7 linked regions of the Homo sapiens genome follow. The protein of the gene in region 3 interacts with the protein of the main gene of each other region in a biochemical or structural test. Each region holds a gene or a part of one and is shown on either strand. Other genes may lie near its edges. The genes, in order: RPS3, SSB, CSNK2A1, EEF1D, HDAC2, BMAL1 and SUGT1.

What was found.
Region 1: of the proteins of CSNK2A1 (region 3) and RPS3, one has a biochemical effect on the other in vitro, tested with the Homo sapiens proteins (2 studies listed by BioGRID and IntAct).
Region 2: of the proteins of CSNK2A1 (region 3) and SSB, one has a biochemical effect on the other in vitro, tested with the Homo sapiens proteins (2 studies listed by BioGRID and IntAct).
Region 4: of the proteins of CSNK2A1 (region 3) and EEF1D, one has a biochemical effect on the other in vitro, tested with the Homo sapiens proteins (2 studies listed by BioGRID and IntAct).
Region 5: of the proteins of CSNK2A1 (region 3) and HDAC2, one has a biochemical effect on the other in vitro, tested with the Homo sapiens proteins (3 studies listed by BioGRID and IntAct).
Region 6: of the proteins of CSNK2A1 (region 3) and BMAL1, one has a biochemical effect on the other in vitro, tested with the Homo sapiens proteins (one study listed by BioGRID).
Region 7: of the proteins of CSNK2A1 (region 3) and SUGT1, one has a biochemical effect on the other in vitro, tested with the Homo sapiens proteins (2 studies listed by BioGRID).

The regions. Positions count from the first base shown.
Region 1 is NC_000011.10:75,402,518-75,404,962, forward strand, and holds part of RPS3 (small ribosomal subunit protein uS3), read left to right. Parts: intron 1-1,502; coding exon 1,503-1,690; intron 1,691-1,903; exon of another isoform or gene 1,904-2,049; intron 2,050-2,154; coding exon 2,155-2,348; 3' UTR 2,349-2,351; intron 2,352-2,445. UniProt on the Homo sapiens protein: Component of the small ribosomal subunit. The ribosome is a large ribonucleoprotein complex responsible for the synthesis of proteins in the cell. Has endonuclease activity and plays a role in repair of damaged DNA.
Region 2 is NC_000002.12:169,805,371-169,808,870, forward strand, and holds part of SSB (lupus La protein), read left to right. Parts: intron 1-103; coding exon 104-207; intron 208-294; coding exon 295-469; intron 470-1,414; coding exon 1,415-1,522; intron 1,523-1,600; coding exon 1,601-1,701; intron 1,702-3,111; coding exon 3,112-3,183; intron 3,184-3,489; coding exon 3,490-3,500. UniProt on the Homo sapiens protein: Binds to the 3' poly(U) terminus of nascent RNA polymerase III transcripts, protecting them from exonuclease digestion and facilitating their folding and maturation.
Region 3 is NC_000020.11:488,291-491,790, reverse strand, and holds part of CSNK2A1 (casein kinase II subunit alpha), read left to right. Parts: intron 1-1,909; coding exon 1,910-2,011; intron 2,012-3,012; coding exon 3,013-3,113; intron 3,114-3,500. UniProt on the Homo sapiens protein: Catalytic subunit of a constitutively active serine/threonine-protein kinase complex that phosphorylates a large number of substrates containing acidic residues C-terminal to the phosphorylated serine or threonine.
Region 4 is NC_000008.11:143,580,416-143,583,915, forward strand, and holds part of EEF1D (elongation factor 1-delta), read right to left. Parts: intron 914-3,500; coding exon 814-913; intron 740-813; coding exon 639-739; intron 313-638; coding exon 91-312; intron 1-90.
Region 5 is NC_000006.12:113,933,149-113,936,648, forward strand, and holds part of HDAC2 (histone deacetylase 2), read right to left. Parts: 3' UTR 1-3,500. UniProt on the Homo sapiens protein: Histone deacetylase that catalyzes the deacetylation of lysine residues on the N-terminal part of the core histones (H2A, H2B, H3 and H4).
Region 6 is NC_000011.10:13,371,790-13,375,289, reverse strand, and holds part of BMAL1 (basic helix-loop-helix ARNT-like protein 1), read right to left. Parts: intron 3,128-3,500; coding exon 2,881-3,127; intron 1,196-2,880; coding exon 1,089-1,195; intron 1-1,088. UniProt on the Homo sapiens protein: Transcriptional activator which forms a core component of the circadian clock.
Region 7 is NC_000013.11:52,666,336-52,669,835, forward strand, and holds part of SUGT1 (protein SGT1 homolog), read left to right. Parts: intron 1-476; coding exon 477-584; intron 585-3,500. UniProt on the Homo sapiens protein: May play a role in ubiquitination and subsequent proteasomal degradation of target proteins.

The sequences.
Region 1 (2,445 bases), on a different chromosome or scaffold from region 3:
TAGCAGATGAACTGTTACAAAGTTACAGGATCTGCTAGTCTCCCAGGGTTATAATAAGATACTAAGTCATGCCCTCACTGAACTGGCAGGCTAACAAGACTACTAAAGCAGCAAGAACTGTAAAGGGTGGTCAGTCCTGTAATGGAGAAGTGTTCTGGGTGCTTTGGGAGTTAAACACAAATAGAACTGTCCAAGGAGGGGACCAACTCCTGTTGGTCTTCTTGAGAAGGCTTTACAAAGAGCCCTGTTGCGGGGGGCGGGGCAGTGGGCAATGAGGAATAATTAGGCCTGTTACTGGGTGTGTTACGTATCCCTAGGTAGAAGTGCCTTAGTACTAGTTAGGATACCATGAAACTTTAGTAGCAATCATTCAAATCTGCTTAGTGTGTTCACTCTTAAGATGGTATTGTGAAGAGATAAGATAGACCTGATGCAAAATAGCTTAAAATCTAGACACTTAACCTCTGAGTTGCATGCAGATAGTAGTAATGTGAGGGTCTACTGGTAAGATTTCAACAGGAAGTTCTTTGTGCAGTTTGACTGTATGTAAAGGCACTGAAATGCCTTGCCTAGAGGAATGACAGGAAAGCTGTGCTGTAGGAAGGTTGACTGGTAGGGATGGGTAGTGTAGGCAAGGCTCTAGGTAAGGACATAGAAAAGACGGCTTACCTGGTTTGAGTGCCAGCTAGGCTGCTTAGAACAATGGTTCTCAAGATTAATGCCAGCCCCAGACCCACCAAATGGGAAACTGGATGTGTGACTCAGCAATCTGTCTTAATAACCCCTCCACATGCTGTTTGCACACATTGAAGCAAGTTAATGAACCTCTCAGCCTGGGATCTGTTATCTTCTAAGGTGGACCATTATACCACCTCTCAGTTGTGGAATATTAAGTAAGATAATGTGAAAGGGCCTGGAGGTGGCTAGCTCTCCAGTTAGTATCTCGCAGAGCGTAAACTGCCGAATGAGTTGGGGGGTAGGTCATATTTTAAAGTGTTTTATCAGCGTTCTAATAGCAAGATAGCCAGGATCCTAGGTGGGTAAGCTTTCCTAGTGAATGAGACTTCGGAGGTTGCAGAGTATTTCAAGGGACCACAAAGTGGGTAATTGTGGAGTGTAAATGTGGTTCTCAGTTTTGGTTATACATGAGAATCACCCAGGGAGCATTTTTAAATAGATATTCCTGGACTTTGCACATTTAATTGGCCTAGAGTAGGGCCTAGATGTCAGGGTTTCTTTTGTTTTTTATTTTAGCCTTCTGAGGTGATTCCAGTATGCAGCCAGGGTTGGAAAGTACATATTTAGGAGCTTGACATACTTGATGAATATTACCCTAAGGTTCGGAATGATAGGTGTGGAAGAGAATTGGTATTCTTGGGGCCGGACTCTGGTCAAATTATTCTCCATTAAAGGAACATTGAAAACCAAGTCTTTGTTTTGTTTTTTAAACTTGGTGGAGGTCCTTGGCAATAACACAGTGGCTCTCTTCTGTTCTTTTAAAGGGCCTGCTATGGTGTGCTGCGGTTCATCATGGAGAGTGGGGCCAAAGGCTGCGAGGTTGTGGTGTCTGGGAAACTCCGAGGACAGAGGGCTAAATCCATGAAGTTTGTGGATGGCCTGATGATCCACAGCGGAGACCCTGTTAACTACTACGTTGACACTGCTGTGCGCCACGTGTTGCTCAGACAGGGTGAGCAGCTGAGAGTGCTTGGCAAAGGGCATTTGTGGACAGATTTGGTTTTCCACAGACATCTTAAGTATTTGGGGGAGTTTATCATGGAAGTAGCTGGGCATGTTCATATTCCTTGGTGTATCGATTGCCACGTTGATCTGTAAGAATCGATTTGCTGAGATCTGTCAGATCCAAGAGTTGGTTTGTCCTTGTTTTAGCCATCTGTGTACCCTTCAGTGATGACACGATGACGAGTCAGAAAGGTCACGTCCTGCTCTTGGTCCTTGTCAGTGCCATGTTCTGTGGTGCTGTGCACGAGTTCCTTTGGCAGAAGTGTCCTATTTATTGATCGATTTAGAGGCATTTGTCTGAGAAGGGTCCAGACCCAGGGGTGCTTGAGTAAACTGCTTGCTCTCTTTGGTCTTGTGTGATGGGGGCCTTTGAGACCCCAGCTGTGTGCTAACAACTGTGGTGTCCTCTAGGTGTGCTGGGCATCAAGGTGAAGATCATGCTGCCCTGGGACCCAACTGGTAAGATTGGCCCTAAGAAGCCCCTGCCTGACCACGTGAGCATTGTGGAACCCAAAGATGAGATACTGCCCACCACCCCCATCTCAGAACAGAAGGGTGGGAAGCCAGAGCCGCCTGCCATGCCCCAGCCAGTCCCCACAGCATAACAGGTATGTCTGCAAGGGCAGGGGCCTCTTGGGGCATAATAGGGTCCTTCCGAGTCTTTCTGTTAATACTTGTATCCCACATTCTGGTAAGCGTTTG
Region 2 (3,500 bases), on a different chromosome or scaffold from region 3:
AACTTATGTATTTTTAAATAACAGAACTTGGTACTGTAGAGTAATGTCAGGATTGGAGTCCATATTATACAGTGTTCTGAAATACATTGTAATTATCTCACAGTATTATTTTGGCGACTTCAATTTGCCACGGGACAAGTTTCTAAAGGAACAGATAAAACTGGATGAAGGCTGGGTACCTTTGGAGATAATGATAAAATTCAACAGGTAACAAGCTTTTAAAAATAATCTTTAGGTTTTCTGTTTACAATGAGTGCTACTGCTGAGTCTTATGTTTTTATATGTACTCTTCAGGTTGAACCGTCTAACAACAGACTTTAATGTAATTGTGGAAGCATTGAGCAAATCCAAGGCAGAACTCATGGAAATCAGTGAAGATAAAACTAAAATCAGAAGGTCTCCAAGCAAACCCCTACCTGAAGTGACTGATGAGTATAAAAATGATGTAAAAAACAGATCTGTTTATATTGTAAGTGGGCCTGTAATGCATTTAAATATCTTACATTTATTTAGAAAGTAAAGTACGGAAGAATAAGGGCTCAGGAATCACAGCCTCACTAATTACTGTATGTCCTTTCGTAATATTCTTAACCTAAGTTTCTTTTGTTTTGTTTTGTTTTGAGACAGTCTCATCCTGTTGCTCACGTTGGAGTGCAGTGGTGTGATCATGGCCCACTGCAGTCTTGACCTCCTGGGCTCAAGTGATCCTCCCACCTCAGCCTCCTGAGTAGCTGGGACTACAGGTGCATGCTACCATGCCTGGCAAAAAATTTTTTGTAGAGACGGGTCTTCCTGTGTTGCCCAGGCTGGTGTCAATCTCCTGGGCTCAAGTGATCCAATCACCTTGACCTCCCAAAGTGCTGGGATTACAGGTGTGAGCCACCATGCCTAGTCCTAAGTTTTATCTTCATAAACGTGGATATTTTCTACCTTGTAGAACTGTTGTGAGAATTAAATGAAAAAAAATATATATACCATTGGATGAAATCTTTGACATATTCTAAGCACCTATTGCCTATTAGCTGTTCTTATTTATCAGCAGCTAAACTTGATTGCAGTTTTCTTTAGTGTATTTTTAAATAGTTTTTTATTACGGAAAATTTCAGATACATATATAAATAGATTCAATAATGTACCATCACCAGCTTTAGTAGTTAATAACAGAACATGCAAATCATCTTGTTTTATTTCTGCTTCAACTGAATTATTTTGAAGCAAATACCAGATGAATCACTTTTATTGTACTGGAGAGTAGTGGCTCCTAAACAAGGCTGTTAAGTGATTAACAAAGAGAAATAGAGATAGATAGGTATATCCTGGGTTCATTTCAAGAAAAAATGAATCAAATTCTCTCCAATTGTTTATCTGAGAAGTCATTATTTGTTATTTGTACATTTCTTCCCACTCTTCACAGAAAGGCTTCCCAACTGATGCAACTCTTGATGACATAAAAGAATGGTTAGAAGATAAAGGTCAAGTACTAAATATTCAGATGAGAAGAACATTGCATAAAGCATTTAAGGTATGATAATACAGACTTTTTCTAGTTTTAAAATATATGGGACATAACTTAAAAAAATATTTTCCTTCCTTTTTACAGGGATCAATTTTTGTTGTGTTTGATAGCATTGAATCTGCTAAGAAATTTGTAGAGACCCCTGGCCAGAAGTACAAAGAAACAGACCTGCTAATACTTTTCAAGTAAGTCTTTTTGCTGATGTTTCTCCTGGCCTTTTACTTATATGGACACACACTAGGGTAAGGAGCATGGAAGTAGTATCCCCTGAAAGGCCAATATTCTTAGTATCTTTAGATGACCTTTGAGAAATGCTTGATATTTGTTCAGTGAGAACTATAGTCTTTTGAGACTATAAGAAAAGTGTTCATTAGTACCTTTTCACTGTTAACAATTTTTTTTTCTTTTTCTTTTTTTTTTGAGACAAGTTTCACTCTTGTCACCCAGGCTGGAGTGCAGTGGTGTGATCTTGGCTCCCTGCAACCTCTGCTTCCTGGGTTCAAGCGATTCTCCTGCCTCAGCCTCCTGAGTAGCTGGGACTACAGGCGCGTGCCACCTCGTCCACCTAATTTTTGTATTTTTAGTAGAGATGGAGTTTCACCATGTTGGCCAGGCTGGTCTTGAACTCCTGACTTCAGATCATCCGCCTGCCTTGGCCTCCCAAAGTGTTGGGACTACAGGCGTGAGCCACTGCGCCCAGCCACTGTTAGCCATTATTAAAGGAGGTTATGTTTTAATACTGATTTTGCATCTAAAACTTTTGATCAGGCTGGGTATTAAAATTTGGTCTTTTGTGTGTTTGGAAAATATATCAATGCAGTTTTCATCTTATTTTTCATAGCCTATATGTCTTTTTTTTTTTTTTTTTTTTTTTACAGTACAAAGGATTTGAGATTTGGGTCACATTCTTTGTGAATGTGTGTCTGTCTAAGTGTCTAAAAATGGGGATGAACCAGAGCATTTTCATGATAAAATTAGGTGTAGGGCCATAGTTCCCTACTTTAGAAGACTGTGCATTAGTCTTCTAAATGGTATATACTAAACTTGATTGACTTAGAGATGCACTGTGATGGGTCATAGTATCAGTGTTAAATCCTCAAAAATTATTTAACATGATTTTCATATGTTATTGTTGGATCTTGGGGATTTTAGAATTTTCTCCTTTTGTGGAATTAACACTATAGAAAACTGCAATATTATTTGCATGACTTCTGATACACTTTTTTCCCTATACATGAATGATAAATGGAAATCAACATGAAATTGCTAATGGATAGGGGGTTTCTTTTTGGGGTCATGAAAATGTTCTGAAATTAGTAGTGATGGTTGTACAACTGAATATACTAAAAAACATTCAAGGTACACTTTAAAAGAGTGAATTTTGTGGCACATGGATTTTTTCCTCAGTAAAGCTGTTATATAAAAAAACATGAGAGAGTAAATTCCTTGGCATATTTTGAATTTTTAGTTGATGATTATGTTGATAGTAAGCGTGTGCAACATTCATTGCTGTGCCATGTCTTAAGTTATTCAAAATAATCTGCAGTCTTAACTTTGTTCTCGTGAACTTAGCCTCTGTACTGTGTGTTCTTTAGGGACGATTACTTTGCCAAAAAAAATGAAGAAAGAAAACAAAATAAAGTGGAAGCTAAATTAAGAGCTAAACAGTAAGTATGTTGAACTAATCACGACATAATTTGAATTCCTTAAAGCTCTGACAGAAATATAGCTGGTGAGCTCTGAAATAGTGGCAGTAGACCTTTCTCTTTGCTAGTGAAACACTGAGATCTTAAGCTGCCTTGACAATCTCAGGGCCAAATTGCATTGCAGTCTAGCATTGGACGATCAAAAAAACCTAAGGACTTCTGGCTTTGGTTAAGTAAGTTTAGTGATCATGATTGGTTAACTTTATTAGGACTTAATTTTCTTATATAGTAAATAGAAGTATGTTATAATTATATTTTTATTTGTAGGGAGCAAGAAG
Region 3 (3,500 bases):
CACCACCCCAGCTAATTTTTCTTGTATTTTTAGTAGAGACTGGGTTTCACTGTGTTAGCCAGGATGGTCTCGATCTCCTGCCCTCGTGAGCCACCACGCCCGGCCTTTTGTTTGTTTTCTGAGGCAGGGTTTTGCTCTGTTGCCCAGGCTGGAGTGCAATGCCATGATCATAGCTGACTGCAGCCCCGAACTTCTGGGCTCAAGTGATCCTTCCAGCTTAGCCTCCTGAGTAGCTGGGACTACAGGCGTGCACTACCACACCCAGCTAATTTTTAATTTTTTTGTGTGTAGAGAGAAAGTCTCACTATGTTGCCCAGGCTGATCTCAAACTCCTGGGCACAACCCATCCTCACACCTTGGCTCCCCAAAGTGCTGAGATTACAGGCATGAGCCACCATGCCCATCCTGTAACTAAGTTTAACCAATCTTCAGAGTAAATTCAAGAATGTTTTCTTGTTCTTCTGAATTGTATACTAAATAAAAAGGTCTTCTCCCCAGCTCCCCCAAAAAGCCTTCTTTCTCCTCACAGAAAAAGGAGAAAGGAACCAAATTAATAATAGATTTGCCAAGTGTTTAAAAATCTGAAGTTTTCTTGGGAGTATCTTTTATGCCCAGTCTTTCCAGGTTATTATCAGTTGATTTTAAAAGTTTCAGACTTTTTGTTCTTGTAGGAATTTCTTTCTTGGGGTCTTAAGGCTATAGCCCTGAGTTCAAAAAGCATTTTATGCATAAAAATAGTTTTTACAGTATTACTAATAATTGTGAAAAACAGAACACTGTCCTATTATAGGAAAATTAAAGATTGAATTCTGAAACATTTATGTAATAAAATACTAATGATACACATTAGATGGTCTCCATGGGCTAACAATTTGGAGGTTTTTTTTTTTTTTTTTTCATGTAAGTGAAGAAAACAATTCAAAATAGTATGTATATTAGCTGAGCATAGTGGTGTATGCCTGTAATCCTACCTACTCAGGAGGCCTAAGCCCAGGAGTTGGAGGCTGCAGTGAGCTATGATCACGCCACTACACTCCAGCCTGGGCAACAGAGCAAGACCCTGTGTCTTTAAAAAAAAAAAAAAAAGAGCCAGGCACAGTGGCTCACGCCTATAATCCCAGCACTTGGAAAGGCCAAGGCAAGTGGATCACAAGGTCAGGAGCTCAAGACCAGCCTGGCCAAGATGGTGAAACCCTGTCTCTACTAAAAATACAAAAAAATTAGCCAGGCGCGGTGGTGGGCGCTTGTAATCCCAGCTACTCAGGAGGCTGAGGCAGAGAATTGCTTGAACCTGGGAAGCTGAGTTGCAATGAGCCAAGATCACACCCCTGCAGCCTGGGCGACAGAGCAAGACTCTGTCTCAAAAAAAAAAAAAAAAAGTAAAAATTGTTTTAAAACCGAGTGAAAGATGCATAAAAGAAAAAACTAAAAAAAAAACTAAAAAAAAAAAAAAAAGAAAAAACTAGCCAGGCACGGTGGGTCATGCCTGTAATCCTAGCACTTTGGGAACCTGAGGCGAGCAGATCATGAGGTCAGGAGTTTGAGACCACTGGCCAACGTAGTGAAACCCCGTCTCTACTAAAAATACAAAATTAGCCAGGCATGGTGGCACGCGCCTGTAGTCCCAGCTAGTCAGGAGGCTGAGGCAGGAGAATTGCTTGAACCCGGGAGGCGGAGGTTGTGGTGAGCCAAGATTGCGCCACTGCACTCCAGCATGGGCAGCAGAGTGAGACTCTGTCTCCAAAAAAAAAAAAAAGAAAGACTAAAAAGAAATATATGAAGATGTTATTAGTGTTTTGATTTTGAGTCAGTGGAGTGATTTTTTTTTAATTTTAAAAATTAATTTTTTATTTTGAAGTGACAAGCCTGAGGATTCACAGATAATAACAGTGAGTTTACTTTTATGCAGATGTACGATTATAGTTTGGATATGTGGAGTTTGGGTTGTATGCTGGCAAGTATGATCTTTCGGAAGGAGCCATTTTTCCATGGACATGACAATTATGATCAGGTAATATATGTTATACCCATTGAAAAATGTACTGGCCTAATGCAATGATAGCCAGCACTGCCTGTAACTTTCAGTTCACTGTTTATTCAGCCACCCCGATATTGATCCTTAGATTGATGTTTCGGGAGCTACCAGCTTAGCCTTTTGAAATCAGACATTCCCCCCTAGTCTTTGTCATTTGCATTGCTTATTTTATTGTGAAGAATACATATAAATTGTCATCCAGATTTTTAAAATAGGACATTACCTTAGAATTCTCCTAATAAACCCTTATCTCCAATATGGTGTTTTCTCCAATATGTGAGCCCATATGTGGTATTTCTGTGATCCTTTTGGCTCTTTATATGGGTTGAGTTACAGATGTTTCTTAAACTAACTCCACTTCCCCCTTGAAGATCAAAGGGCTCTTTCATTCACAAGAACCTGGAATGATTCTAGGACCTTGTGGAAGGTACCATTGTCTTGTTCCCTTTGAGCACCATGTCCAATTTTAATGAGTCAAAGAATACAACCTGAATTCCATTAAAGTCAATAACTCTGTATCAAGTGCATGCAGTACTGAGGAATACAGAAAAAAGAAAGAATAGTTTTCTTCCCCTCAGATAGTTCATAGCTGATCTTGTAAGGGAGTCAAACATACAACAAAATAGGTTACAGTCATAACTTCAGAGTAGAAATGTGGACAAGGCACAAAAGGCAGTAGTGGTGAGTAGTTTGAGTGTGCAATGGGAGCTTCCCAAAAGAAGTGACATCTTCAATTGGGTTTTGAGGGGAGAAAAATAAGGGTTCACCAGGGTGACATTTCAAGAGGAAGAAACCAGTTTATAAAGTAGTTTGCTTTTTCTAACACTATCACATTGAGTTGAAGTCTAAACTGTTAGGAGGTAGCATTCATACCTGTAGACATGATGACCCGTTTATGTAAATTCAATCATTGTTAATTGTTGATTTGTTAATATAATATGCTTGTGATATGGGTTTTTGTCTTTCTTTAATACTAGTTGGTGAGGATAGCCAAGGTTCTGGGGACAGAAGATTTATATGACTATATTGACAAATACAACATTGAATTAGATCCACGTTTCAATGATATCTTGGGCAGGTAAGTCATGAAACAAAATATGTGCATCTGTGGCTTAAGCACTTTGAGAGTGAACTGGCACTTAGGATCTTCAAAATAGTTATGTTTTCTTTGCCAGCACTGTCAGGATGTCAGTGGTCCAGTGCCACAGGATGCTGCATTGAGCAGGCCTCTGATAAAGGCATTGGATTGAATGGCCCTTTATTCAAATTAACTTACAGGAGTCTGATGGAGGGGTTATAGCTAGAGGATTCCTACAAAATGAATGTAGATTCTAGTAGAAGGGTTACAGTTGAGGCAAAAATCAAAATTTACCTTGCTTCTTTAAGTGAAAAACCTCTCTCCAAGAGAAAGAAATTGAAGTAGAAAATGCATGCTTTAAGACTGATGTGCAGGCTGGGCACGGTG
Region 4 (3,500 bases), on a different chromosome or scaffold from region 3:
CAGAGGGCAGGGGGAGGGTCACAGGCTGAGCCGGCTAGGCGGGCACCAGGGCAGTGCCTGGCCCCCTGAAGCCCCACCCCGCCCACTCACAGGCTTGACATCCAGCAGGATGGAGGACTTGGCCACCAGTGCAGGCTTCTTGGCCTTCTTCTCCGCGTACTGCCGTAGCCGCTCCTCCCGCAGCTGTGCCGCCTCCTTGTCCTCCTCCTCATTGTCACTGCCAAACAGGTCAATGTCATCATCCTCGTCATCCTCTGCTGGTGTGGCTGGCTTCTTGGCTGGGGGCTCCACTTGGCGCATGGGAGATACGTGCTGCCACAGGGGAAGGGACAGGAGGCACGGCTGAGACGCCCCAACCAGGGCCCAGAGCTGCCTGGCCACCTCCTGGCCCTCCTCCCTCCTTTGACTGGAGGAAGGGCAGCCCCTGTGTACCGCAGCTGTGTACATGCAGGGCCCCAGGAAAGACAAAAACTGCCTCCACCTGCCCAGGGCTAACTGTAAACCTTCCTGGGGACCTGAGGACTCCAGTATCCTGGCTGCCAGCTCATCACTGCTGCTGGGGCCAGCCCACAGGGCGACGTGGAAGCCAGCAGGGCCACGTGGTCCCCTGCAGTGTCAGGCGTGGGGAGAGCATTCACCTGGGTCTGTGGGGCCGTGGCCCGGTGGCCAGGCGAGCTCTTCTCCAGCACGTTCAGCCGGGCCTCCAGCTTGGAGATGGCCTGCTGCAGCTCCTGTACCACTGGGGGGGCAAGGGGAGCACGGTTAGATGGCAGGGGCCAGGGACAGCCCCAACCCACTGGCCCGGGGCCTCACCGCCACGCAGACTCTGGTTCTCCACTTCCAGACTGGCAATCCGGACGACGAGCTCACCGTGGTCTCCGCTGGTGCCGCTGGAGGCCCCGGGGCCTGAGCTCTGCAAGGCAGGAGGAGGGGAGGGCTCAGTGCCCAGCCTGCTCCTAGGGTCCCCCTGCCATGCTCAGGACTGCAGGAACTCACGGAAGGAAAACTACAGCTCGGGAGAGCAGGAGGTGCCCCCCGCTGATGCCCAGCTCAAACTTATGACCTCAGAGGTGGCGGCCACCACAGACCACAGTGAAATTCTCAGCCAGGCAAAGTCCAGGACAGGAGGCTCTTGGTGCCCCAGAGACGGAGGCTGTGGGGAGCTGGGCCATGGCTGCTGCTGCCCGGCGGAATCCTGCTGAGCAGCCAGGCTCAGAGGCTGGGTGGGAGGTGCTGAAGGACTCACAGTCCTAGGGACAACCTGGGACACGCCTCAGGGGACCAGGCAGCACTGGAAATGGGAGGCGGGAGCAGCTGAGGGCCCAGTGGGGGAAGAAGGAAGGAGCCCACCTGTGTGGACAGCAGCCACCCAAAGCTTTGTCTCCCTGGGCCTCACGCCTGCCATCTCACTCAGCAAGCCAGTCTCTAGGTGATCCAGGGCCCCAAGCCCACCTCATACTCTGCCATAGCTGAGACTGATACCTCGGGGCCCAGACAGGATCCCAGCCTCCTGGCCCTTAACACTAGCCAGTCCTTAAGCATCTACCTGCACGCATGGGCCATTTAGCCTGCCCACCCTCCAACAGGATGGCTCGAAGGACAGGGTGCACCTGGCTGCATGGAGCTCTCAGCAAACCCCATCTCGGCAGCTCCCCGGGGCTCCCTCTCTGTGGGGAGGGGCCTGGAGTAGCCGGGCAGGCAAAGCCGCTCCTTGCAGCAGGTGCGGACATACTCAGGCCTTTGCCCAACGTGCAAACCCATCCCTGGGGCCCTCCTGCCACCGTCCTTGGGACCATGCTGTGGGGAATGCTTGTTTATGTATCTGGAGGGTGTGGGAGCTAAGCCCCGCAGATCATGGGCAAGGCCGAGCCAAACTGGCCCAGGAGGCCCACCTGGCAGCAAGGCCAGGAGGAAATGGACAGGGAAAGGCCAGGCTGGCAGAGGCGCGTGAATGGTGGTGGGGGTACGGGAGGCACCGGCAGAAACTGACAAACTCGGGGGCAGAAGCCGGAGCACGGGAGGGCCAGGCTTTGGGGCGCCAGGGGGCATGGAGAATCACAGCAGACCTCCCGCGGGAGTGGGGCTGGGTCCTGAGGAGGCCGGAGTCTGTGAGTGGCACCTGAGGCCTCATGCACCCCACACAGCAGGCCCAAGGACAGGGAAAAGGTCCCCTCTGGAAGAGGCACTAAGTCAGCACTGGCCCCGGGCTGCATGATGAGCAGCGGGGGCCGTCTCACCACTGCCTGGCTCTGCGGGCCACTAGGCCAGAGCCCACAGCACTCAGGACACAGGGAGAGTCCCCTCCTTTGATGCTGACTCAGGGGGGACTAGGGATGCCAGGCATCAGAATCCCTGAGCACAGCTTCAACGGGCAGGCTCAGGTCACCCAGTGCAGTCACAGCGGGCCTCAGAGAGCCCCTCAGGGACTTGGGGGATGCCAAAGGCAAACACTTCAGAGCCAGACCCATGCCTGTAACCCTGTGCCAGCACCACGCTACCAGAAACCCTGCAGTTCTGAAACCCCAGTGTCTGCTGAGCACTCCCACCCCAAATCCAAGATGAGACTGGGCCCCTGCCATGGGCTGAATAATGTCCTTCCAAATCCACATGCTGGAGTCTTATCCCCCGGTATCTTAGGATGTGACCTTATTTGGAGACAGGGCCTTTGCAGAGGTAACTGTCACTGAGGGGCAGGGGGCTAATCCAATCTGACTGGTGTCCAATAAGAAGACATCAGGACACACACACACTCAGATGGATGACCGTGTGAAGACATGGAGAAGACGGTCTACATGCTGAGAGAGGCCTCAGGAGAAACCAGCCTTGCTGCCACCTCGATCATGGACTTCCAGCCTCCAGAGCTGTGAGAAAATACATGTGGTTTAAGTCACCCAGTCTATGGACCTTTGTTATAGCAGCAAACCAGTCCCTAAGCCCTAACAGTGCGACCACCTGCCTGTCCCAGAGACACCTTAGGGTTGACTCCACACAGCCAGGGCTGAAGAGTTCCTGCAGCCCCAGGGCCAAGCCCCCGACCGCTGCCTTCTGGGCACTGGAGTGCAATATGCCTGACTTGGGCGCAAAAATCTGTGCTCCCTTAATCTCATGTCTGCCTAGCCTGGACTTGGTCAGGTGCCTGGGCAAGCCAGGGGTGCAAGCCAGTGGGCAGAACGCAAGGCACAAAGGAGCACCCCACCTGGCAGACAGGAGTGGCAGCCCTTCCTGGGCCCACCCACCCAGGGATGCCCAGCTTATGGCCCGGGAGCCAGCACACCCCTAGGTGGCTGTGGCTGTGGCAGACAGAACAATGGCCCCCACAAAGCCACATACGAGTCCGCAGAGCCTGTAAATATGGTCTCCCATGGCAAAGGGATTCTGTAGATGTGATAAGATTAAGTTAAGCGGCAGAGAGGATGCTGGATCACCCAGGTGGGCCCACTGTCATCACAAGGGCCCACACTAGGCAGCAGGAGCGAGGGAGGGGAGAGGGAGGCTGAGTG
Region 5 (3,500 bases), on a different chromosome or scaffold from region 3:
TTGCTTTCAAAATGATGCTCATGTTCTCATTCACTAAGTGATTAAAGTTAACATCATCAGTAATGAGAGAAATTGAAATCATGCATTACCTGACTGGGTGCACTGAGAACACAGCATCATTCCTGTGATATTCTTGCCCAAAACATGCAACCTATATCTAACCATGAAGAAACATCAGACATGCCCACTGAGATATTCTACAAGGCCAGAGGGTTAAGTGACTTTCCAAATTTCACAGGACTTGTTGATGGCAGAACTGGAATAGGATTCAGTTATTCTGACTCCTGGACCTGAGATTCGATCCTATCCCATCCCATCTTATCCCATCTCCTTCTGTCCTCTTCAATCCTCTTCTATCCCCTTCCATTCCCCTTCCCACTTCTATTTCCATTCCAGTCCATTCTATTCCCATTCCATTTCACTCAAATTCCATTCCATTCCACAAATAATAATTGAGGCTTTATTTATGTGTTAGGCACTGTTCTAGACACTGGAGATTAATCCCCAGTGGAGTGTAAGACAAACAAAACCCTTGCCCTTATGAAACTCTTAATCCAGTGAAAGTAAGCAGAATGGTGGCTGCTCCTTGTCTGACATTCTTTGTGTGTGTGTATGTATATTATATAATATACATACACACACATATATACACATGTATATATATATATGTGTGTGTATACATATATATAGAAGGAATTCTCTTTCTTTTATCCCTTATTCCAATCCTGTTATTATTAAGGATTATATTTAACTTTACATGTTCAAATTAGTATAGTTCCTGTCTCCTGACTGAACGCTGATGCAGGGAAACTCTGGTCTCTGACTTTGATTTTTTTTTAATAGTAATGTTTGGTACAATCAACTGACTTAAAACTTTAAAAAACTGAATTTCTACGGGTAAATGTTTAAATATGAGAAAAAAGTTGACTTTAGAATGTCTAATAAGCCTATCCTATTCAACAACCAAGAAATAGATTTCATACCTATTACACATAAAGATATAAAGGCATATTTTGGACTTTAAAGAGCTTGCAGGACAGGAAAGGCAAAAACATTTTATCCTGAATGCCAACTATCTGGGTTAATGACTATCTGGGTTGATACGCATCTCAAGGCCAGAAAGGAATGATCAATTTGTGACATCAGACAGGTAAAAGACGGAGTGCTGGAAAAGCATGTCAGCTGTTACCTAGTCAGTTTCATAGATTTAGTAAACTGAAGCACAGAAATTTAAATGACTTGCCCAAAGCAAAGTTGTGTAATGTAAAGGCTGGTGCTAGACCCATATATGTGATTTCCAGTGCATTGTTCTTTACTTGTTGCTGCTCTAGATGATGATGGTGTTTTGAGGTCAGGTCGGAAGTACAAACAATTTAAGATGAGGCTTGTTTACCTTACCTATAGGGGTCCAGATGTGTTTTTCTGGGAAATCAGATTTATTGCCCACCATAGTCACAAACAGACTGGAAATAAGATAGATTTACAGAATTTTCTGCCTAACTCTAGAAATAGGATGGCAGAAGAGTCATTACATTAAGAAAGCCCAATGCTGCCATTTACTTTAAGACATATAAATTTGGATTTCAAACAAAACAGCTTACAAAAGGGTGTTTGGCATCAAAAGGGAATAGCACAGGAATTATACCTAAGTCCATTACATATAACACTGAACTATACAAGTAAATGTGTTTGACAATAACAATGCTTATTTGATTGTTGGGGAAGGTGACAGCTAGTAATACGTTGGACTTGAATTATATTTTTTCCTGGAAAATGGTATCTAGAGTAAATTTTTCGCACCTACTTGCCCAAACTTTCTTATCAGATGCTGAGTTGAAAAGAACATACCTAGATTCTACGGAAATTAGAAATCTAGCCTTTTTAAGAATATAACTTTGGAAATACTGGTGAATGGTAGATCTCCCATCCTCATGCTTGGAGGGCTATTATCTACCACAGGGCCACACAACAGTGCCCTCTTAAGCCCCTTAATTTCACCTAGTCTAGCCAAAGGCAACACAAGTTCAAACTTTCCGGCTAGACTTCAGAATAAGAAAATTTTTGAAGTGCATTTCTCACTTAAGGACATAGCATATTTAAAAAATAAGAGCAAAAGGGGAAATTCTTGTCTTTTTAAATCAAACATTATTTGTTGCCAGAAGTGTAATGACTTTTTGTTGGTATTTGTTAAGTACAGCCAGTTTTGATAATGTGCTCTCTTTTACTTTAGGAATTGCCTGTCCGTACTTTCCTTTAAAAGTTTTACCTGTACATCATCCTAGTAAGTATATGGCAAGGGCAGGGAAGTGACCCTGGATGTTTATTTCTGAAGAAACAAAAAAGATGACTAGTAGAGGATACAAGAGAAGCTGGAAGCTACTGATTTATCAATAGAATAAAAAATCCACAACACAAAAACAGATTAGAGTCTTCTTTGTTCAACTCACTCCTAAATACAAACCACTGGCTGCAAAATGGGTCTGGCCAAAAAAAATCTCCTATTCAGAATCCTGCTACTCATTTTACCTTAGAAATAATTATACATTTCTTTAACATTTAGAGTAAAAACAATCTTAATAAAAAGAGCAAATAACAGAATCTAATCAAGGTGTCTTCTGTCCTTAACTGTTTGTTCTACTAAAAAAGAATTTTTCATTAATAATCCTAATCATAACTCTGCAGTGTTCAAAGACCAAAGGGGTTAGGTACTTAGTTCAGTAAACAAAAGTCGTGGAACAAGCACCCAATGCCCCTGAATATTAACTTCACTATAACTATAATTCCTAGAAATAAATTTCAATTCTTTCCCATTCTGTATACTAACTGATTCTTACCACCAGTCAAAACAGAAAATTATTCTGGCTCTAATATTCAGTTCCATTTTGTCTGACTAGCAAAGTCACAATTAGTCAATGACTACCAGATACACTCTACTGTGTTTTGCAGATGTAAAACTTAGAAATTAGTGTTATAATTCTTATAGGAAAACCTAAATCAGTAAACTTAATTGTAGTTTAATTCAAAGTTTTTAATCCAATATTGCATTCAAAAAGAATCTGTTAATACATGTTGCTCTGCTTGTTACATGGCCACCAAGTGACTATAAGAGAAAACACACAGAAAAAAAAATTTTAAATGCAGTATCTGCCATCTTGTGGTACAGTGAGGAAATGCAGCAATTGAGAAGCTTCTAAATGCTGTAATCCTAAACATTTCTCCGCATTGCTCATGTAAATAGCCAATAATAACAATATGATAGTTCTATTTTTTCTGTAATCTACTTAATGCCATTTTTCTTGAGATTATCCTTGAGTAAATTACAGAGGCATCAAGATCCCCCCAAAGTTGTCAAATATTATTCGTATCCTTGCTAAAATCAGGTCTCCAAAAGATTGCTTCTCTATCCACTATGACCTAGTAGTCTTCACACTAGTAGGCATCAAACTGCAATAAAAGGCTCAGATACAACCCATCTGGCATCTAAAGGAACACTCAAAAAT
Region 6 (3,500 bases), on a different chromosome or scaffold from region 3:
TGTCATGCTTTATCTCAATCACAAAGCCCAAGGGCAATATAGAACTTATCTCATTTCTAAGAACATCCAAATCAACAGAGGCTACTCACCTATTCAACCTCATTCTTTCATGTAACATGTAATGAGCCCTTCTCATGTGCCAGGCACTGGAGATACAAGAGGAGACAGGCTATGACTCCTGCCCTCAAGAAGAGTAGTGAGGGAAGGCTATACAGGGAGAAGAGATCAGAGCCTTGAGGGATGAACACGAGTTTGCCAAGAGAAGGAGGGAGGGAAGAACCCAGCAGTGCCTGAGGAGCAGCAGGGTCTGGTTGGGGAGAGGCCAGTGAGGTCAGTGTGCCTGGAGCACAGGCCTCTGCAGGCAGGGATGGGGACTGAAACTGAGGAGGTGGGCTGGGGCCAGAAGGTGGAAGGTCTCACATTTGATTGCCTGTCAAAAGCATTTGGGCTTGAGTCTAAAGCAGGAGGTTTTTAAGCAGGCTGATGTTACCAGGCTCAATCTATCTGGGGATAAATAGGATAACTATGGAAGATGAACTGGGGGTGAGAGGGATCAGAGAAACCCTGAGAAGTCTATCACAGGTCTCTAAGTAGGCACGAGGGCCTGAACCAGGGTGATGGCAGAGGTGGTAAAAAGTAGACTTTTGGAAATGCATGTCTGAGGTGAATGAACAGGATCTGGTGGAGACACAGTGAAAGAAGGGGTCAATGTTGGTCTCTCTCAGGAGCCTGCACATGAAGCCACAGCATTAGTCAAGACAGAAAACACAGGAGGTAGTGCAGGCTTGAATGGAAAAGAGAATCAGATCAGTCTGGGCCATACTAAATCTTTACAGGGTCTGGGAAAACCCTCTGAACAAGAGATGTCTTTCAGAAACTGCCATGCAGTCAGCACAGGGCAACTACAAGGGGGATAAACAGTGCCTGCAGGTATCAGCTTCCTCTTCACACAGATGTTCTGACCTGAAGAGTCCTAGGCTGGCTGACTCTACATCCTCAGTGGACAGATTTCCCTGGAAGGTCATGTTGACTAGTCTAGAAGCAAGGGGACACTTTCAACTTAAGATCTTTCATACATCCTAGCTTACCTTGCCTATGACATTCTGCAAGATGTCCTATGTCATCTTGGTGAAAATATTCATAACACGATGTGCCTAGAAGTTCTTGTGGTAAATATGCCAAAATAGCTGTTGCCCTAAAAGGGAATAAAGGAATATTTAAAGAAGAAAAAGCCATTCAGATGATTAATTGCAACTTTGCAATGGATAAACCCTGCTACAGCCTATGAGAGCAAGGTCAAAGCTGCAGGCAAAAGAGCTGGATGGATTTTCAGAGGGCTCACTGTGTGGATCTTTCTCTCTTTTTTTCAGGCATCTGAATTTAATCAAGGCTATAAAAATAGAGGGAAACAGAGCAAAGCCTTTGTAAAGGGACTATTATCACAAGAAATCAAATCTGAGGGGGCTTTAAAAATTGCAACCAGTCGGGCATGGTGGTTCATGCCTGTCATCCCAGCACTTTGGGAGGCCGAGTTGGGCAGATTGTCTGAGCTCAGGAATTCAAGATTAGCTTGGGCAACATGGTGAAACCCTGTCTTTACCAAAAACACAGAACAATGAGCTGGGTATGGTGGCACATGCCTATGGTCACAGCTACCTGGGAGGCTGAGGTGGGAGGACTGCTTGAGCCCGGGAGGTCAAGGCTACAGTAAGCCAAGATCTCGCCACTGCACTAGATCTAGCCTGGGTGACAGACTGAGATCTGTCTTTAAAAAAGGAACCACATTAATTAGATTAAAATGTGGTATAAATCTAAACCTCAGTGCAAGGCTTCTAGTTTTTGCTGCCTCCTTTTTATCAGGACAACCAAATGCCAGAAGCTGCAGCAGCTGAGGCCACAAGACAGCTGAGGCTGTCTCTTTTTCCAGCATGTTGTGGCTGTCTCTAGTAGCCAGAAAAATTATTAGCCTGTGCATATTCTGAGGGAAAGCAGTAGGCAGCAGTAAATTTGGGACACCTGGGTCCTTGGTCCAGGTCTATTACCAATTAATTGTGAATCCTACAGGAGACCAGTCCCCAGGCTGGCCTCTGTTCTTCATCCATAAAATAAGGAGGTTGGATTAGATCAACGCTGTCCAACAAGACTTTCTGTGATGATGGAAATGTTCTATGTCTGTGCCGTTAGCCACATGGGAGGCTACCATGGCCAACGAGTATTTTATTGGACAGCTCAGGACTAAATAATTGCTTCCAAGTCCTAGATTCAAAAGAATTTCAATCACAATAATGGTTCTGGAACATTCCATAGATTCAGACAGCATGCTATCCCTACTGTTTTTCTTTTAGCCATGGACATCAAGGCACCCCACTTAATTGTCTCTATATGCCAAAGAATGACAGAAAAATCTCTGTATTTATGATGATATCCTATTGAATCTCATTTTTTAACAGAGACTCTCATCATTTGTCTCTTTTTTTTTGAAACAGGGTCTCACTCTGTTGCCCAGGCGGAAGTGCAGTGGTGCAATCACAGCTCACTGCAGCCTTGACCTCCCGAGGCTCAGCTGATCCTCCTGCTTCAGCCTCCAGAGTAGATGGGACTACAGGTATGTGTCACCATGCCTGGCTAATTTTTGTATTTTTAGTTGAGACAGGGTTTTGCCACGTTGCCCAGGCTAGTCTCAAACTCCTGGGCTCAAGTGATCCACCCACCTTGGCCTCAAAAAGTGCTGGGATTTGAGGTGTGAGCCACTGCACCCAGCTTTTTCTTTCTTTCTTCATTCTTAGAAAAGCCAGCTGATGGCCCAGTCTTCTCTGCTTTTTAGATCAGGGTTGAAAATCCTCTACCATCATTGCTCAAGGGTAGTATGTAGACTCTTACCTCTGGTCTACAAAAACAAACTTTCCATCTATCGCGTGCCGAGAAACATATTCCATAGATTTCACCCTGATTTCCCCGTTCACTGGTTGTGGAACTACATGAGAATGCAGTCGTCCAATTGCGACGAGGCAGCTGAGGTTACACCCCTCATTGTCTGGTTCGTTGTCTTCATCCAGCCCCATCTTTGTGGGTGGCCAGCTTTTCAAATAGCCTGTGCTGTGGATTGTGCAGAAGCTTTTTCGATCTGCTAGAAAGCAAAGTTCGTGGTTAGTGTCAGCACTAGGTTTGGGCCATGGAGGTGTACACGGCCGATGGTGGGATGGGATGTAGGTAGGGAGTCAAAAAATAAAAAAAAATCAAGGCTTCACTCTCCAGAAGTAAGCATCTAATGAAAGGGGCAGACGGAAAGAGAAACAAACTGTCATCCAGTGTCAGAATGCTTAAGTAGGGCCAGTTATACCATGGACATTCATTACATACACCAAGGAAGGAATATCTAACTCTTCCTAGGGAGAGGAAGGCTCCCCCAAAAAACCAGTAGAGGAGGTGGATCAAGAAGGATGAGCAGTGGCTGAGGGACTAGAATGTATAAAGGCTGATGACGTACACAGGCACAGAGG
Region 7 (3,500 bases), on a different chromosome or scaffold from region 3:
CAAAGTGCTGGGATTAGAGGCATGCACCACCGTGCCCAGCCTCTTGAGTATGACTTTTAACAACTTGATTTCTTACCATTTAGTAGAGAACCTTATAATAGATTATTTAAAAGAGGTAGTGATAGAACTGTATGTTTTGCACATGGATCACTTTTTGTTATATATCATTTTGCTTTTGTATGTTTTCTTGAAATCTAAATATCAAATAGGTGTGATTAAATATATGACAAATATTATGAAACTTATTCTTTTCTGCTGTTTAATGATGTCTATAAGAATTCATGTCAAGGATACCAGATGGAAAAAAAAGGTTCTTAAATCTTTGAGAACCTTTTGAGGTTCTTAAATCTAAAATTCCATATATAATGTTTAAAATAATTTGTAACATTATTGAAGATTTGTCATTATTTTGTGTAGGTTTTTTACCCTCCATTATATACATTTACAAAATGTGATGCTAATTTTGTGTTCATTAGTTGTCTGCTTTGGTTAAACTTCCTTCTGGAGAGGATTACAATTTGAAACTGGAACTTCTTCATCCTATAATACCAGAACAGAGCACGTTTAAAGTACTTTCAACAAAGGTAAGACCATTGAAAAGTTTGTTACTAGTAATATTTTCAAAATTATAGAAATACTGGTGAACTAATCACCCATGTGTTTATAAGCTTGTAGATTCTTTCAGCCCTTTAACAGGGACAAGAAAATAAGAATGATAACTTTTGAGTATAAGGGTTATTTTACCTCTCAAATTCTAGTACAGTAAAGAATAAAAATCCACTTAGAGTGTGTGGCATTTGTGTATTTACTAAGACAGATATAATGTTTTTCAATAAAGGGGTTTTTTTAAAAAGATACAATAATCAGCCTGTCTTTAAGATTTGATACTGACAATGTCTCTTCCCTTGAACTTGTCAGTTTTGTCTGTTTTGATGTACAAATACTTTTGTCACCCTACCTCATGCAGTTAAAAATACAAACTACAAGAAAGATGAATCTGCCTTTTGTTTTTTTTGTTGTTGTTGTTGAGACGGAGTCTTGCTTTGTTGCCCAGGCTGGAGTGCAGTGGCGTGATCTCGGCTCACTGCAACCTCTGCCTCCTGGATCCAAGTGATTCTCCTGCTTCAGCCTCCCAAGTAGCTGGGACTACAGGCATGCACCACCACGCCCTGCTTAATTTTTGTATTTTTAGTAGAGATGGGGTTTCACCATATTGGCCAGGCAGGTCTCCAACTCCTGACTTTTTTTTTTAAACTGAATTTTAGATTACTCTATTATGAGGGAACAATGAGTAAATTATAGTTTGAGTAATTTTTAGATTCCTTTATAGTTTCTAAAAGAAGTAGAGATATACAACAGAATTAATATTCAGAGAGTATCACTCAAAAGATGTAGATAATAGTGTAATTTAGTAGGAAAAAAACTGAAAATTTAAAAATCTGACTCTGGATCTTTGCTTGCCCTGTGTATTTAGTCTAGGCACAAAATGACTATAAGACTGAATTTTCAGCACCTTTGAAAGGAGGGCTGTGGACCAAATGAACTCTGGAGTCCTTTCAGCTGTAGAATTGTGTGAAGGTATATGATAAATGAGTTAATGGGAATAAATGATGTAGGTAGGCTTTTTCCATTACTACTTTTTTTTTTTTTCCTTGTTTTTGAGATGTAGTCTAGCTCTGTTGCCAGGGTGGAGTGCAGTGCTGTGATCTCAGCTCACTGCAACCTCCGCCTTCTTGAATCAGGTTCAAGTGATTCTCCTGCCTCAGCCTCCTGAGTAGCTGGGATTACAGTCATGTACTGCCACGCCCAGCTAATTTTTGTATTTTTGTAGAGATGGGGTTTCACCATATTGGCCAGGATGGTCTTGATCTCCTGACCACGTGATCTGCCCACCTTGGCCTCCCAAACTGCTGGGATTACAGGTGTGAGCCACTGCACCTGGCCTATTACTCCTTTTTTTATACATAGGTCCTGCAGCATACTGTGTTAGTATTTATTAGGTTGAAGCTCTAAGGACATGTGAAGTTTCCTGTTGTGGAACAGGATCGGGGTTGGCCTGTGTTGTGAAGAATGATAATTGGGCCTGCAGAAAGGACACAGCTGCAGAGGGTTGGAGAAGAAAGTGTAAAGTGAAGTAGTTTTTTGCATCCAGTTAAAAAGGATCTGCCTACTTATTTGAAGATTGTCAAGAACAAAGCTGGTTAATTATGAGGCAGATTTTTGAAATAGCTGCTTGGGACAATAGAAAGTGAGGAAAGGGATGAAATCTTACCAGGATTTTGGTCTCTCACTGGTCCTATCCACATAGTATAGAATTTGTTTAATAAAAGAATTTTTAGTAATCAAGCACAAAATAGGTAGATTTGAGAGGGATATAGTTCATAAAATAATGAATTTGACTTTTTTTGGTATATGTCTATCGAGATTGCTAATGCAAGTGAGCTGAGATCACTACGTTGCACTCCAGCCTGGGCAACAGAGTGAGACTCTGTCTCAAAAAAAAAAAAAAAAAGATTGTTAATGCATGTCCATTTGGAGTTATTTAAATTGAGTGTGAATTAATGATAAATGACTTAAGAACTTGTATTACTGAGCCACCTCCTATAGTGGAAGAATATCATGTGTGGTAAATACATAGATGTGTGGCTAGAGTTGAGGATGTAATTAAGCACTCTTATCTCAATTCTTTTTTCTCTTTTGAGTCTTGGATTTGTTAATTTTAACCATTCTTCAACCATACTACTATGTTCTCAGTTTGCCTTTTCTGCCCCTTCCTCTTTAAATGCTAAGTGACGACTTTTCTTCCTTATATAGTAGTTTATGTATACATTTCATGTCCCTCGTTTCTGTGTAAGTCTTTGAGGATAAGAAGCATGTTTTATTTGTATCTTTGTATGTGCCCCAGTTAGGGTCCCCAGATAAAGTTACAAGATGTTCATTTAAGTTTCTATTTAAGATAAACAATGAATAATTTTTATTATGTAAATATGTTTCATGCTATAATTTTATTTGCTAAACTTGGCAGCCCTCACCACATACATTGCACAGTGGGTGCTTAGTTCAGTGAATGAATTAAAATTGGATTTTGGTTTTAGTCCCATGACATTGGCAGAGAATGTTTATTCTTAGTTTTGCAGGTGGAAAAACAATCATGTTAATGGAGTTTAAATACTTTCCCCAAGTTTACCTAGTTAACTAAATTCTTCAGCCTGGCCTAGGAGACGTAGATACACTTCTGATTGCCAACCAAACTAGTGCATCTTTGCTTAGGTTTTTCTAAGTTTTGAATTGGAGAACTTAGATTCTAAGGATGTGTCCTAAAGAATTATTATTTTTCTTGTCCTGACCCTGGAATCTCTGTATTTTATATACCATATATATATATATGTGCACACACAAAATCTTGTTAGATTACTAACTCTTAAACTATTTGGGGGGAAGCAAATTGAAAGAAGTTTTCTTAATTATGTCTTAAGGGAAATAAATGATAAAATCTTTGA